2 separate regions of the Homo sapiens genome follow, and region 1 is linked to region 2. A link means that fine-mapping ties the variant in region 2 to the expression of a gene that starts in the linked region. Tissue or cell type: unexposed skin. Region 2 holds a variant in brackets; the other region holds the start of a gene. All regions are shown on one strand. Distances are from middle to middle.

Region 1 (8,342 bases), 54 kb after region 2:
CTGTGCTTTGCGGGGTGACTCTACGTGCTCTGCAGAGTGTCTGTGTGGTGCTGGGCAAGTCTGTGTCCTGAGGTGATGGTCTGTGGCCTATGGTGCTTGTCTGTACACAATGGGGTGAGTCTGTCTGTTGTGGGAGAGTCTTTGTGTCATGATGCGGGTCTTCAAGCTGTCTCATGAGTCTATTCTCGGGAAAGTCTGTTTCATTGGCAAGAGTCCCTGTGCTCTAGGACGAGTCTATGGTCTGTGGTGAGAGTATGTGATGTCAGGGGTGTCTGTGTGCCCTGGGGAGAGTCTGTTTGCTGTGGGAAGAAGCTGTACACTCTAGAGAAAGTCTGTGTGCTGTGGGGTGAGTCTACTGGCCTTGAGAGTATGTGTGCTTGTCGGGGAAGCCGTGTTCTATGGGGTAAGTCTGTATGCTGTGTGTTTCCTAAAATGGGTTCGTGTGATGTGGGAACAGTGTGTGATGTTGGGATTGTCTGTGTGTCATAGTAGAGTCCTTATGGGGGGGCAAGTCTGTGTCATGCGGGGTGCATCAGTGTGCCTCAGGTGAGTCTCTGCATTAAGCAGTACATACGTGCCTCTGGGAGAGTCTAATGATACGGGGATTGGGGTGTCCATGTGTTCTGGGGAACATCTTTTTGCTGTGGTGCTTGTCGGTGTGCCTTTGGATATGTCTGTGTACTGGAAGGCAAGTGTGTGTACTGTGAGAAGAGTCTAGGTGCTGTGGGGGTAAATGTGTTTGTGTTATCTGGTCAGTGTGTGCATTAAAGGGTGAGTTTGTATACTGCGGACACAAGTCTGCTTCCAGGCAAGTCCCCCTTAGTATCTACAAATAATAATAGACAACACTTACATAATGGTTACTATGTGCCAGACACTGTTCTAAACATGCTGTTAGCATCCCCATTTTACATCTGAGGAAACGAAGAGATTTAAGTAACCCGTCCCACAGTCATGCAACTAGCAAGCAGCCGAGGTCTGAAACCAGGCAGTCTGTTTCCTGTTCTCATACTATTATGATTCCCCTCGGGGCCCTGAGGGCATCGGTGGCCTCAAACCTTAGAAAGCCTTCGTGGTCACTGGTGAGCATATAGAGAGCAGTTAATTTGGGAGGAAAGAAAAGGAGTGGCTAAAAGCCTTCCAAGCTTTATTTAAAAAAAAAAAAATGCTCCATATACAGTAACGATGGCAGTTTAGCTCAGAAAAACTGACGTCATGTCTGCCAAATAACTCCAGCCACTGCGGCCCTCAGGACCCCTCCCCTGGCCCCACAGCCGCATTCTGCTACTGCAGTGGAGCAAATGCGCATGCACTGGCGAGCTGCCATTGCCAGGGAAACCAGCCTCCTCATAAACAAAACACAGTCTAATGCGGCAAGTCAGGAAACTACTGGGACTGAGGCTGTGAGCCAAAGGAGCCCCTTGCAATAACCGCAGGCAAGGCAGCCTCCCACTCACGCGCCATCCTCCCCCCGCCCTTTTTTTTCCCCCCCAGAATCAGTAAAGCTAAGAGGCCCGGTGCAGAAGTCAATAGAGAGAGAAAGCTTCGTTGGGGGCCCGGGAGAGGGTTGGTAATAGGTAGCAAGTGATTTTAATTGTCAGATTTCTCTGGGCAATATTTAACCCATCTCCTACTAAAAAACTCCTTGCCTTATGTCTTGAGCCTTACACCTGCAGTGAAAAGAGGTGGCTCACTGGGGTGTGTCCCTATCTAGAAGAGGTAGTGGCAGTGGTGGCATGGGTTAGGACTCACCCTAGCTCCTTTAAATCCCTACATGAGACTACGGCCAGCAACAGGCTGGCAAACATTATTTACTTCTACTCCTCATACATTTCTTGTATTTCCCTCTTATATCATTCTAGAAAATTCCAAGAACTGAGTCGAGCCAACTTTAACTCTTTGAGTATCTGAAGAGTAAAAAAAAAAAAAAAAAAGAGGTTGAAGGAGGAACTTTAACCCCGGGGGTATTTTTTTTTTTAACACACAATTGGGATATCAGGTGCGCCTAAGAGGAATAGCACACCTGAAACCGTGGTTTCATATATTTGGATTCCTTAATTTTAATTTGCAACAAGAATGTGACAAACTTAACATATTTAAAATGAAAAAAAAAATCCTGTTTAAAATACTGCCCTAATCTGCATGTGCCTAGGATTTTTGAAACGCACAAGCACAAACATGGTGCTCTAGTATGCTGTCAGAAGCTGCAGGAAGGTAGGAGTACCATTGCAAAATGTAACCATCTTGGGTAAAGAGAAAATGGCCGACCTGTGGAAAGCTACACCCTATCTAATGGAAGAACAGTTGTTGCGTTGGATTATTCAATAAGTGATGCTGAAACAATCGGTGACCTATTAGGGGGAAAAAAAATTAAATCCTACTGTATACCATATATCAAAATGAATTCTAGGTGGATTAAGGAGTTAATTGTAAAAAATGAAGCAATTAAATAACTAGAAAAAAATACAGGTGAATACACTAATCAAAGGAAAGAAAAAAATCACAACACTTAAAATGGTCAGATATGGAAATCTAACATGTAAAACTGTAAAATATCAAAAAATCACCACCATAAATGGTAAAAATTAATAGGAAAACAATGGCTGGAAAATAATGTTTATACCACATATAATAAATAAATTAGGTGATAGGTGTTGGGGGGAAGAAACCTTAAATTGTTTCATACCATTTGATCCAGGAATTCCATGTCTACGAATTTTTCCTAGGGAGAAAAAACCAGAAAAGCACACAGATATTTATATGGAAAGATATTCCTTCAGTTATTTATAACAGCAAAAATAATGCACATATAAACATTCAATAATTGGACATTTAGTGGGACATCTATATGATAGAAAATTATACATCCACAAAACACCACATTCTTGTGGAATATTTTAAAATATGGGGAATTGCTCCCAATATATATTTAATGGATCAAACAGGCTAAAAATTGTATGTACATGTGATCTTCATTTTGTATAAAATATATATTTCTATGCATTTATTTGCATATATTCAGAGAAAAGAGACTGACAGTAATAAGATTAATAGTAATTATCTCTAAGTTACGGGATTATGGGTAATTTTTATAATCATCTTTACATTATTCAAAATTTACTACAATGACTATGATATTTTTATAATAAAGGGGAAAACATCATTTTTAATATTTTAGTAAGTGTATAAAAGCACTGGAAGCACAGAGAGGAAGGCGTAGAAGCAAAGACAAAATACCAATATACACCAGTGGAGGATCACGCAAAACGAGCTCATTATGTACTACAGAAAGATTATAGCATTATTTGCATGTCAGTATGTATAGAATGTCTTATACAAGATGGAGTCCTGGCAAATTTTCTTCGCTACACCAGAGAATGGTCACATGTCCCTGGATGCGTCAGTCACTCTCTTTGCCGCAGTGCTCTGTTCAACACCCCCTCCCTTTGCCTCCAGTATGTTCTCTCCCTTTCCCTCTGCAAAACATGCTACCAGCAGACATGTTCAACTTGGGAAAATGGCCCATCTTGAGGACTTTCTTTTAAGCTTTTTCATTCTTATTTTTCCTCCTTGATTGCTGCTGCTTTGTCATCTAACTCAAAAACGAAATCTATTTATCTATCATTTTTCTTTTCCTCACGTTCAAGGGCCAGTTTGAATTTCAAAGGAATAAACCACCACTTCACTTTTTTTTTTCGTTTTTCTTGCAGAAACAGAGCTACAAAAGCTCTGTTTTCAGGAATGTTTCAGAAACAAACATTAAAGCTTCGTTGATAAGAATCTCTGCTATCCATCTCACATCCCTTTTCAAAAAAAGAAGCACCGAGAACACTCTTGTCTTTACTGTATAAATCGCTGTCCAAAAATACAAATTAATTTTTTCCAATGAAAGCACGATCATAATATTCATTATTACTTTTTCATGATTTTTTCATCCTAAAGTCAAATTTTAATGTTTCTCATTGAATACACTTTCATATCTCACATGAAGCAATCAATCTGAACATTATTACAAACTGCCCTCTTCCTCATTTTCTCTCTAGTACAGACATCCCGTCACACGACTTTCTTAATTTAAAAAAATGAGGCATCGTATCCTTTTCTGCATTGCAAAGTAATATTTTTCTTATGCTCTCCCAGCACTGAGAAAATAAACCAGGTTTGAGAACATCTTGAATCATAACCCATTTCATCACGTCAAATACAAATATCGTAAAGCTGAGGTACAATTCTGAAAGCAATTCTCCAATTTAGTAACATCTTCATTAAATCTTATTTTAGGAAATATTTTACAAGAATCACAAGGGGAAAGTTTCTATATTGCCTCCTAGCAACTCCATCATTTAAGAAACAAGCTTTAAACTAGAAAAATGACCAGGGAATATTTAGAATTTAATTAATCCATTTCCCAATGCTGCTGATTAGAATCAGAGATTCCTACACAATTTTGCATTATTCTATTCCCTCAAAACATGTCGCTTGCTTTAAAAATCTTAGTCTGGATATCTATTTTACAAAATATTTCTCAGCTACTTACCAGTGGCATGCTGTCTCCCCACCAGCTCTGAGGCTGTCTGTCGCACTGAAGGAGTGGGGGCAAACAGCAGCGCAACAGCCACTTGGAAATGAGATGTACTCTGAAAAAAAGGGATTATCCCTATGGAAAGAAATGAAATGCCTTGAGATTATCCTCAAAAATTCTCCAAAAACATGAAATCATACTAAACATTATATGCTAAAATGTGCATGCTCTTCAAAGGGCAGATTTTAATAGCTAAACCTCTAATCCAAAACACACTTAAGTTGCCTTGATTTCCAGAGGAACCCCTACAAGACTATGAGCTTTTGGCTCTCCCGTCTCCTAGCAACAGTCTCATTAACTTTTTTTTTTTTCCTGCAGTGGTCCTACTAGGCATCAGAGAACATTGACAAGGTCTAGTCTCTGAGGATGAACATTACCATTTTGTTGTTCAATATGTGTTTTCTCCCAGGCAAGTAATAAGGAAAGTTAGAAATTCAAATAACAAAGTCCCCAGAAGATTTCTGATTCAAATGACATTCCACAATGAAAAGCAGAAAATTTTTTGGTTCCCTCACTTGGTACAATGCTGTCGGTAGAACCCTGTTCTAATATGAATGTGCTCAATGCTACCAAACTGTACAGTTAAAATCAAGTGGAAATTTTTTGTTACATATTTTTCCTACAATAAAAAAGAGAGAAAGAACGATTCATTCACTCCACAAATACGTGTCGTGCAACAAAATGAGGTATTCCTGTAATACCACAGTCAAAATATGGTGGTGGGGACAGGGATTATAAAAGTGAATAAAAAATAGTCCATCCTCCCTTTATAAGTTCATAAGGTAATAATATGCACAGGCTGCAAAATAGAAGTATTTTGTCGAAGTTATTCTTTTTTTCATCAGTTTTGGGTAACGTTATCATTAGAATTGTTACATAATCTGCCCCAAAATACTGGACTCCCGATGGGTGGAAGAAGTAAAGAAACACATATATAATGTTAAAATATACAAACATATATTCGTACATCTCAACTGATCATGCACACTTATCTTTACAGTGTAGCTTTTAGAAAATTTTTACTTCTATTTTCACAAATGTATTCACTTCAGAACAACTTTTCAACATTACATCATTACATAAACTGCTTTTAAAACTAATTTAATTTCTGCCAGATAGGAAATATGTGGCAATCCAGTTCAGTACCTTATAATAAAAAAAGATCAGTACCTTTATTATGTATTTATTATAGGTCAGGCACTTTTCTAAGTACCAGGTGATGAACCTGAAAAGACTAAGTAACAGAACGAGGATACCAACCTTTCTTACTTAAAGCTCAAGCTCCTCATCACATCATTGAATCACAAACATCAGAGTTCTTCTAAATCACCTGGAGTGTTAATTTTTTAAAATGAGGACTAAAGGGACCTATTCCCAAGTATTCTGTTTTGGCAGGCTAGGGACAAGCCCAGAAATCTGTATTTTTAACAAACGTCATCATTTGGTTCTGACCAGAAAACTTAAATATAATCTGTATTATTGGTAATGTTATTGGAGAAGTAAATTCTAAAACTATGACACATACATACATACACACACACACACACACACACACACACACACCACGTGTGTATATTCTGCATGGTTAGAACAAACGAGTAAATGCATTTTTTGGGGGTATTTTTGGAACCAGAGTTCTCACTATAGGAGAAAGGAGATACAAATATGAATCTGAGAAAGTGAAGAGAATCCTAAAGAAACCTTTGGTGACGGATTTGAATCGGAATTTTTAGTATGAACTCATGATTTCCTAAGACAAATCTTACTAGGTCTGTCCACAGAAAGGAGGCAATGACACTCCAGTAGCAATTAATATGACACACCAGCAGCAATGAGTACATCTAATGCCCAGGTATTAGTTTCTAAATACTGTTGTCTACTAAAAGAAACCAAGGTTTACTGGAAAAATAGCTGACGCTATACATGGGGCAGGAAAAATACAAGTGAACTTGAAGTATCTTGTATTATAAGCCAAAAAGCACTTGAAGAATGATGAGAACACATCAAAAAGACACAGGAGATGTCTTGAAAGGGCTCTCACTGGCTAACTCTGGTACAATTTGATCATCAAAAGGAATAATAATGGTCGTTGACTATAAAACATAGAATAAAAAAATCCGTGAGTCCACAGTGATAGTAAAAAAGAAAAAGTGGTAATGGAGAGGGTAACTGCTTTGTTCTAAAAGAATAACAGAAAAGAAAAGAAACTGCTTTTTTCTAAAAGGAGATATATTTGTAAGGAATGACAGAATTTGTAACTGACCATTTAGAAACCTTCAGTATAGGCCGGGCACGGTGGCTCATGCCTGTAATCCCAGCACTTTGCCTGTAATCCCAGCACTTTGGGAGGCCGACACAGGTGGATCTCCTGAGGTCAGGAGTTCGAGACCAGCCTGGCCAACATGGTGAAACTTCGTCTCTACTAAAAATACAAAAATTAGCTAGTCATGGTGGCAGGTGCCTGTAATCCCAGCTACTCGAGAGGCTGAGGCAGGAGAATTGCTTGAACTCTGGAGGCAGAGGTTGCAGTGAGCTGAGATCGCGCCACTACACTCCAGCCTGGGTGACAGAGAGGGACTCCGTCTCCGAAGAAAAAAAAAAAAGAAAAAAAGAAAAGAAAAGAAAAGAAACCATCAGTATAATAACAGGTTTAGGCAAGAATCGTCAATGCATACCAAAACCATTAGGCAAAACACCGGGGAAGAGAATATTCACAGGACTTTTAAGTATTGCCCATAGGCTACTAATTAAATATAAAAGAGAAAAATGTGCATTTTCAATGGAGTGATTTGGAATACCCCTGCCTTAACTGATTAAACTTCATGTCACCAATAATAGCACAAACTGAAATGTGCCTTTTGATGTGATGAAATGGGAAGCACACGTCATCTATTTAAGTACTAGCCAAAAATATTTTATCTGAAGAATCAATCATTAAATCCAGATTGTGGAACAATCTAGAAGACAGCTGGCCTGAACCATCAAACTATTTTTAAAAAGTGGGAGGGCAGGGAAACTATCCTAGATTAATGAAGATTAAAAAGATACAACTACCAAATGCAATGTAGCAATAGGTTAATCATTGGTAAATCTAGGTCAAGTATACACAGGTGTTCACTGTGTTATTTTTTGAGCTTTTCTGTAGGCTTGAAGTATTTTAAATGAAAAAAAAAATTAATGGCCTGGCGCGGTGGCTTATGTCTGTAATCCCAGCACTTTGGGAGGCAGAGGCAGACGGATCACCTGAGGTTAGGAGTTCAAGACCAGTCTGGCCAACATGGTAAAACTCCATCTCTACTAAAAATACAAAAATTAGGGCCAGGCACGGTGGCTTACACCGATAATTCCAGCACTTTGGGAGGCTGAGGCAGGTGCATGACCTGAGGTCAGGAGTTCGAGACCAGCCTGACTGATATGGTGACACCTCATCTCTACTAAAAAATACAAAAATTAGCTGGGTGTGGTGGTGTGCGCCTGTAGTCCCAGCTACTTGGGAGGCTGAGACAGGAGAATTGCTTGCACCCAGGAGGCGGAGGTTGCAGTGAGCCAAGATCGAGCCACTGCACTCCAGACTGGGCGACAGAGCGAGACTCTGTCTCAAAAACAAAAGAACAACAAAATTAGCTGGGCATGGTGGCAGGCACGTGCCTGCTATTGAGGAGGCTGAAGTGGGAGAATCGCCTGAACATGAGAGGCAGAGGTTGCAGTGAGCTGAGATCGTGCCACTGCACTCCAGCCTGGGCGACAGAGTGAGACCTCA
Region 2 (8,342 bases):
AGTGCTCTTTCACAGCTTCTAAGATTACTATTGCACTTCTATTGTATAGGTACAGAATGGATGTGTTAACACTAACCCTTTTGTTACAGTCAAATCTTCTTAACATTTCATTTCCTCCTTGGTCCTGAGGTCTTCGATCTACCCTTGAATGAAGCATTATCAAAGGAGAAAGGGAGTAAGGTCAAGGAAATGGAACTAATATGTTTTGATGTGAGCACTCAGTATGTGGCAAACCCTTTACAACCTGATCATATTTTGGCCTTACAACATCCTTGTATTTGAAAAAGCAGAAGCTCAAAGATGACATGTGGCATGTCCAAAGTCACACAGCTAGCGTCCAAGCTCCAGACTCCAATATCCATGTTTTTTACACTAAACTAAGCTGTTTTCCCTTAAAATGAGTAGCTGTCATTCACATTCTGGAGCATGTGAAAATTCTGTCATGGAGCTGCGTTATGGTTTGAATGTCTGTCTCCTCCAAAACTCATGTTGAAACGTAATTGCCACTGTAACAGTATTAAGAGGTGAGATCTTTAAGAGGTGGTTAGGCTCCACCGTCATGAATAGATTAATGCCATTCATGGGAATGGCATTTCATGGGAATGGATTCCTTACAAAAGGGCAAGTTTGGCCTCTCTCTCCTTTGCCATGGGATGACACAGCAAGAAAGCCCTTGCCAATTGTCAGTCCCTCAGTCTTGGCCTTCTCATCCTCCATAACCACATGAACAAATTTCTCTAATAAATCCCCTCTCCTCTATCTATCTATCTAGCTAGCTATCCCATTGGTTCTGTCTCACTGGAGAACTCTGACTAATACAAACTAGTTTATAGCTTGTCTAAAAACTTCAGAGAAAAGATGTCTTCAAAATATTCTACTCTGAGTAAGAGACAAAGAGTGCTTCATGAAATTATTCAAGAATTCTCTTGCATAGCCAATGTTTAAGAGGCGTAAGTTACTAAATGTGCATAGAACCACTTCTTTAAAATTAAATAAGCAATATTATATGCAAATGAATCTAAGCAGCTCTAGAGCTAAACAATAAACTAAGGGGAAATTAATGCATCATGTTCAAATATTATTAACAAAAATGGAAAAAAATAATAGGTAAATAACACTAATAAAGTGAATTTTTCTGGGCCAGGCACTGTTCTAGCTGCTTTACATATATTAACTCACTTAATATTTAATACAACCCTATGTGTTAGGCATTATTATTATTATTTTATAGATGAGGAAATTGAAGCTCAGACAAGTTACATAATCTGTCTGAGGTCACACATTTATTAAGCAGGAAAGCCCAAAATGTACAGCTATGCAATCTTGCTCTAGATGACACACTCATCCATTACAATGCACTTGAAACTAATGATGTTAAGATTTTTTCTTGCAATTCTTAACTGCTCAAAATCATCCTAACACAAGAAACTTCTGGTTAAATAAAAAAGAAGGCCTCCACCTTTAGAAAAGATGTATGATAATACCTGTAGCATAACAATGAGCAAAAACCATCTTAAAATAAAACACCCAGAGTAGCTCATAGGTTCTAACACAAAATGTGAGTCTAAGTTTCTACAATATGAATTTTCTTTTTGTTCCACATATTCCTATCAAAACGGTAAGAAATAAATTAGTATCGATACAACTCTTCCATTAAATTTCTACAAATATTACCTAAACATAACGAACAGATTTCAATTCTAATCCTACTCAGAATCATACACATTCTTTCTTTGTTATTTCATTTATGATAATTAATTATACATCTTTTACATTGTTAATTTTTAAATTCCCACTGCACGTAGAAGCATATTTTACTGGAGACTTCTATGTAGAAAACTGAATTGTACATTATAAGATCACATGACCATGCATATCCCAGTTTTCATTCTTCCAAATGAGTAATATAAATTCACAAATCAACTTTCTTCATTTGAAAATTTAAGTATCATCCCTATGAGCAAAAGCCCTAACTACTTATGTTCGAAACAATTGAGGGATATGATGCTGATATTTATTATCACATTTATTTTTTGTTCTTGCTATTTTAATCTTTGATTGTTATGGAACATCTTCACTCTCTTTCTATGGTTCAATGGGTTAACAACCAAATAGACATCCATCAGTTTTTAATAATAATCTATTTTTCACATTAAAATTTCATGGAAAATCGTTCATACTTCTTACTGGATGGAAGTTTTTTAAATAGCTCTGAAAATTCACCACCAAAAACAGTCAAAAAAGATTCTATGTAGCAACAGTGCCCTCTGCTGGCTACAGCGTGGAACAGCTAAACCAGGCCTATAAGAAATCCAACAGCTAAGGGGATCTGCCGTGACCCCCGTTTGGCGATGCCGACAATGACCGTTCTGCCCACCTTTTCCCCATTCCAGGTTAAGTAGAATTTGGCTTGATACCTCCTCAAGGGAAGCAAACTCTGTTTAGCAGGCCAGGGATCACATGTGCCCTTTTCTTCCTTTTGAAGAGCTGGTCAAGCCCAAAACCTCAAAAGATTTTAAGAAAAGGCACACGGATTTGAACAATCGTTTCCTGATCTTCTCCAGATCTTTTACAGATCTTCCTCTTACCTCATTTTTCACTGGCCCGCATAAGACAAAAAGAAGCATTTATAAATAAAACCAGTCCATCCCCTACTCCGGAGCTACTTGCCCCCCTTGTCGCCTCCCTTAACGGTAATAGCAGCAAACAATTCAAGATCAGCATTAAATGGCTCTAGGGGTAAGAATTGAAAACCCCTTTTAGCCAGCACCTAACAGTGTCTAGTCACTTACTAGGAGAGGTAAATGGTGCTTCCTAAGTTATTGAGTGTGATCCTCATTAAAGGTGCTTGTATCATTGCAACTTCAGACTGAACTGCCATACCACCAAATACACATGGGAAGCTAGAGAGGAACAAGGAATCTCTAAGCATAGAGGCGTCCCTCTTCTAGAAAAACAATTCCAAAAGCCGTTCCCTGCTATTTGTAGTTACTTTAAAGATTTTATACTCAATTCAATTATTGAAGGGGTTCCTAAATACTAATTAAGGGAGTGCAGTTTCCCCTCGAACTTTGCTTCTGTGGGGATCGGGCGGTTCCAATGCAAAGCTTTGCAACTTGGGGCGGCTGCATAAGCTCTCAGCTTTGGGCTACTCCAAAATCCACGTTGACCCCAGGGCCTCGGTGAACAAAGCACTGGGCTGCGCTACTTGAGGCTCAGTCCCTGCCCCTTCCCACACAACCAGGAAGGCGTATACACAACGAAAACCGGAGGTCTACTACGTGGCACCACGGAGAGGAGGGAATCACTTCAGAGTTGATTAGCTGCGTCGGGGATTCGGGTGAGGCAAGTGAGGCTAAGTCGTTCAAGTGCAAGGTCTGAG[C/T]TTGCCCTTATTTAATATTTCTTATCTAGCTTCTTGCGGAATTTTGGCTATAACTTTGAATTTTAAAGAGACTGCATGAACAGTTTTATCTTGATTACTGAGTATCTTGGTGCCGCCTTAAATTTTGCACCCGAGGCGAGTGCCTTGCTCGTTTTGCCCTATTTACCACCGTGGTGATTGAGTGAGGGCGATTTTCCAGCTACCGAAGGGGTAAAAGATAGCCCGGAGGAGGAAGCCGGGAGCCGAGGCAGGAGCCCTCAGGATGGGAAGGAGGAGGAGGTCGCAGAGGTGGGCTCTGACTGGCTGGCTGCGAGCCAGCGAAGACGCTCCGCTCAGGGAATTTGTGGGGCCGCCAGGGAAACAAGCTTGGTTAAAGCGGAATACGGGAAGGAGTCGGCTTACCGGGTCTGGCTGCTCCGAGCCACGCAATCTCCTCTCCTTAACCGCCTCCCCTCTCTGGGGAGGACTCGTCTCGTCTTTGCAGTGTGCCTACTCCGATGCAGTGCCGTTCTGTGCCACGTTGTCACCCGGCTGCTCTCTGGAGAGACCCGCCCCTGCGGATGGCCTCTCCAGCATTCGTCGGCTCCTGACTCGCCACCCTCTGCACTGGGCGGGGTCGCCCCCTTACCCCACTCCCTAAGGAGGGGAGGGCTGAATGCTGTCACTTCTGACCTAGTTGCAGTATGCCAGGGACTCTTCCTCAGTTACACCACTCACCCCCACCCCCACCCCCACCCCCGCCCCCGCCCCACTCCGTCTCTGCAGCGGAATTAACCAACTCAAGTCCAGAGCGGTAAGAGACCCTCCAAGGGTCTGTTGGTTATTCAATAACTGTAAAAGTCGTGGATGGATTCGATCATAAGGGCGTCAAATCTTAAAACTGGAAAAAACATCCGATTTGGAGAGTATTTAACATTCAATATCTGTCGTGAAAAGTCACGAGGCAAATTAAATGTGGGTTAATATTTAATACCAGTAGTGAATCCTAACAGATACACACAAAAAGAAACCTCTCTAAAGCAGGCCCTACGAATTGCTGCCTGTGCACGCTTGACACCTCCATCAAGGGGTATAAAAAAGCTTTCAGAGGAGGACCGAGTTTCTGTTGTGAAACGGCCTGAAGGAAGCTCAGTTTCACAGAACGCCAGCCTGGGAGGATTTTATTTGCTGTTCCTACTCAATTCCTTTATAAGACCTCAAATTTCTCTGAAGCCCTTCGCAACATAAAATGGCAAGTGCTTGTCCACAGGTTACTCTGAGATTCTTACAAAGCATTTTAAATGGCTTGTTCAACTGAGACTGGCAGCTCAGAATTTGTTCTTCTAGAAAATGGATGTGAAAAACAGCTGTTAATGCCATACAGTTGTTTTAATGCGTTAAAGTGCACGGAAAACAACCAGGCCAGTGAAGATCCATATTTCTCCCAATTCCCCAAAGACATATTTTACTGGAGAAGTCTTGTCTTCAGATATTCAACTTCATTTATTAAGGCCTTAATAAATGAGGATCGGTCAGTACAAGAACAAATATCAGACTTAGCAATTTAGTTCACCCAGTTAAAATTGAGTCTCAGAGAAAGCAGTGAATCCCTTTTGTTTTTAGTTTTTTAACTGAAATTCACATTTAACTGTGTGCTTTCTTTCTGACAAACCCAAGAACAATGCACCAACTACTAGAATTTTTTTTTTTTTTTTTTTTGAGACAGAGTCTCCCTCTGTCACCCAGGCTGGAGTGCAGTGGCACAATCTCGGCTCACTGCAACCTCTGCCTCCTGGGTTCAAGCGATTCTCCTGCCTCAGCCTCCTAAGTAGCTGAGATTACAGGCACCCGCCACTATGCCTGGCTAATATTTGTATTTTTTTGTTTTAATAGAGACGGGGTTTCACCATGTTGGCCAGGCTGGTTTTGAACTCCTGACCTCAGGTGATCTGCCCGCCTTGGCCTCCCAAAATGCTGGGATTACAGGCGTGAGCCACCGCGCCTGGCCTACTACTTGAATTTTTTTGTCTATAGTCTTTAACAAACAAGACAATAACAGATGTAGGCAAAAATATCACATGGATTTTTAGTAATTTATACATGCAAAAAATATACTAACCACATTGAAATATGTGTTATGAGAGTTATAAATATATAGATTAAGGAGACTGCTAATCTGATAGCTAAGAAGTCTTTAACATTAGCCCAGGGATCTGCAAACTACTGCTTGCCAGTCAAATCACGCCTATGGTCATTTTTTGTACAATCTTTCACCTAAAAATAATGTTTACATTTTTTAGTGCTCAAAAAATATCAAAAGAAGAATATTTTGTGACAAGTGTAAGTTATGTGAATTTCAAAATTCGGTGTCCATAAATAAACGTTTATAGTAACCTATTCATGCCCACTTATTTTCATATTGTCTCAAGCTGCTTTTCTGCTAGTGGCAAAGCTGAATAGTTTCAACATAAACCATTTAACCCTCACAGCCAGAAATATTTACTGTTACAGAAGCAGTTTGTCAATCCCTGATATAGATGAAGACATTACCTATAAAGTGGTGTTACAAATAATCGTTAAGTCTGTTAGCTGTAATTGAGTGGGCTCAACATTTTCCTTCTTAGATAAATTATTTGTTTAGCTATCATTTTTCTCACAGTCAAAAGAAAAAGACCATGTTTTCATACACACGAAATGCTGGTAAACTGCAAACCGATGGGATACAGGCTGTCTCTGCTTTTCATGACTTCTAATTCACCCTTTGTCCATTGCTACGCTGCTTCACAAACCAAAATCCTGCTGTGGTTTCTAGAGTCCTAAGCCAATCAGTACTTTACCAAGTGGCTCGCCTGCCATCTAGTGGGGAAAGATAAGAGTGCTCTCTCTCTCTCTCTCTCTCTCTCTCTCTCTCTTTTCGAAAAACTGACGAGGTCGCTATAAGCTGTAGGACCTCAGACAGTGATGATTATAATAGTAATTCATTACATTTTAATGGCACTTTGAAATTTACAAACTATTTCCCAAAGTATAGTATTTTAGTTAATCCTCCCTCACCACAATTCTGTGATGTAAGCACATCTTCTTTGCCATATTTTTTCAGATGCAGAAACTGAGTGTAAACATTGGCTTACTCAAGGTCCTACAGGTGGGCTCGAACCAAACGTCATGCTCTGTTTGCTGAACCTAACACCTCTGAATTTGGGCTCTCTCATTTCTACATTTCCAGTTCTATTCTATGAATGATTTTGAGTCTCTGCCACAAGGACATTTATTTTGGGAAACTCCCTTGAGTAGTCTTTTCAAACAAACAGGACCCATCCAAAACATCCCCTCTCCAACAAATATTCTAAGGAGGCAAACAATTTTTTTAGCTAAAGGTTTAATTAATGTTTATCTAAACATGTTGTTATCTTAGACCCATTTTATGATGCACGACACATAAATTGGGAAGAAGATACTTAAGGCTTAAACCTTGGAGGGCTGTGAGACTCCTGGCAGAATGCCTGCTACTAGCTACCCTAAATCCTTTTCTGATTAAGACATACAATAATTTTTCCAATTCAGTATGAGTTCCAACTTTTGAACCTACAAAACAACGTTTGCTTAGAGCTTCGACAGTGTAAGCCACAGAGTTCTCAAGAAGAGGTCCATTTTAATTGTTCAGTGTCTCAGAAACTTCCAGCTGCTTGTGAATCTGCAAAGGGACCTCAGAGCTCACGTGCTAAAGCTCATTTGAGAGGGAAGATTTGTGGGTGTTTCCAGTACTCACTAAGATGTCTCTGTCTTGTAACAGCAGCCTTTGTGCTTAGTGATGACCAAGTACCAGATTAAATGAACCAAAGGTTAGGGCAACCCATCAGAAAGAGTCATGTTTACACTGACATTCATCTGCAGAGTCTGCAGTTTGGGACACAATGAGAATAGACCAAATCATGGACCAGCTGCTAAATGCAGCTGTACTTGAGTGTGTCCAAAACTACAAGGAGGGTAAATGCAAACAAAAGCAGGTTCCAGAGCTTTGCAGATCATTGTTCCCAGGCTGTGCCTATTTCTTGTGAACAAGCCTCCTGGGACAATATTTTAGTGTTACTTGCAGATAGTCACACTTTCATATTAAACATTTCAAGTTGTGGTGGGAGTGTGAAAACTAAGACACCTGGTACATGGGAAAGAAATAGTTTTATTGCTAGACTTTATGAACAGCCTTAAGTTTAACCACAGGTGAACCTTACTGTTTGCAAGCTCTCCTGATGTGATTTATATCATACATGGAGGAGCTCTTTGAAACTCTCTAGCTCGGACATGACATTGTATTGGTTGCCCAACTTGCCTTGGCTGCCAACATTCTGGCTAGGCCATTTTTAGCTGTTGAGGACCAGATATATATATATTATATATAGGTTGCTCACTGCAACCTCTGCCTCCCGGGTTCAAGTGATTCTCCTGCCTCAGCTTCCCAAGTAGCTGGGATTACAGGCGCATGCCACCATGCCCAGCTAATCGTTGTATTTTTAGTAGAGACAGGGTTTCTCCATGTTGGTAAGGCTAGTCTTGAACTCCTGTCCTCAGGTGATCCACCCGCCTCGGCCTCCCAAAGTGCTGGGATTACAAGCGTGAGCCACCGCGCCCGGCCTATTCAAGCTATTTCTTCTGTTTTACCACATCCCTCACTCCTTTCCCTGTTGAACTTCTGCTTAGCTTTTAAAGCTCACCTCCAATCTGATCTATTTGGTAAATCCTTATCTGAGACCCCAGCTAGAAGTAAACACACTCACCTCTGAACCTACTTTATAGCCCTATGTCTGAGTTTCTTGTAGGGCACTCGGCATTTTCTACCTGGTATTGGAATTATTCATGGGCGTGGCAGTCACATTCACTAGACTATATGCTCACTGAAGAAAACCCAGTTCAATGAGTGCTTAGACCATGACTCCTTCCTTGTTTTCCTTAAAGAGAGCAATCCCCAGGCTCCCACATCACT

Direction of the effects. Alleles are on the strand shown, and positions count from the first base shown. SD is a standard deviation of normalised expression in the study named.
In carriers of allele T in region 2, the expression in unexposed skin of the gene that starts at base 4,584 in region 1 tends to be lower than with C alone (large effect, 0.77 SD a copy in GTEx).

The links. PIP is the estimated chance that this variant, and not a neighbour inherited with it, causes the effect.
Region 1: LINC00632 starts here. The variant in region 2 is fine-mapped to the expression of LINC00632 in unexposed skin (GTEx, PIP above 0.99). The same link has a PIP of 0.9 or more in sun-exposed skin.

Annotation. Positions count from the first base shown.
Region 1 is chrX:140,706,001-140,714,342 of GRCh38, reverse strand. LINC00632 (long intergenic non-protein coding RNA 632) reads right to left here and starts at 4,584. Exons shown (of 5, transcript NR_173140.2): 1 at 4,538-4,584; 2 at 2,687-2,722.
Region 2 is chrX:140,760,141-140,768,482 of GRCh38, reverse strand. The region is part of intron 3 of LINC00632 (long intergenic non-protein coding RNA 632); the gene reads right to left. Among named protein-coding and RNA genes, the nearest start is that of LINC00632, 55 kb to the right of the region's middle. The variant C/T (reference allele first, on the strand shown) is at 3,383.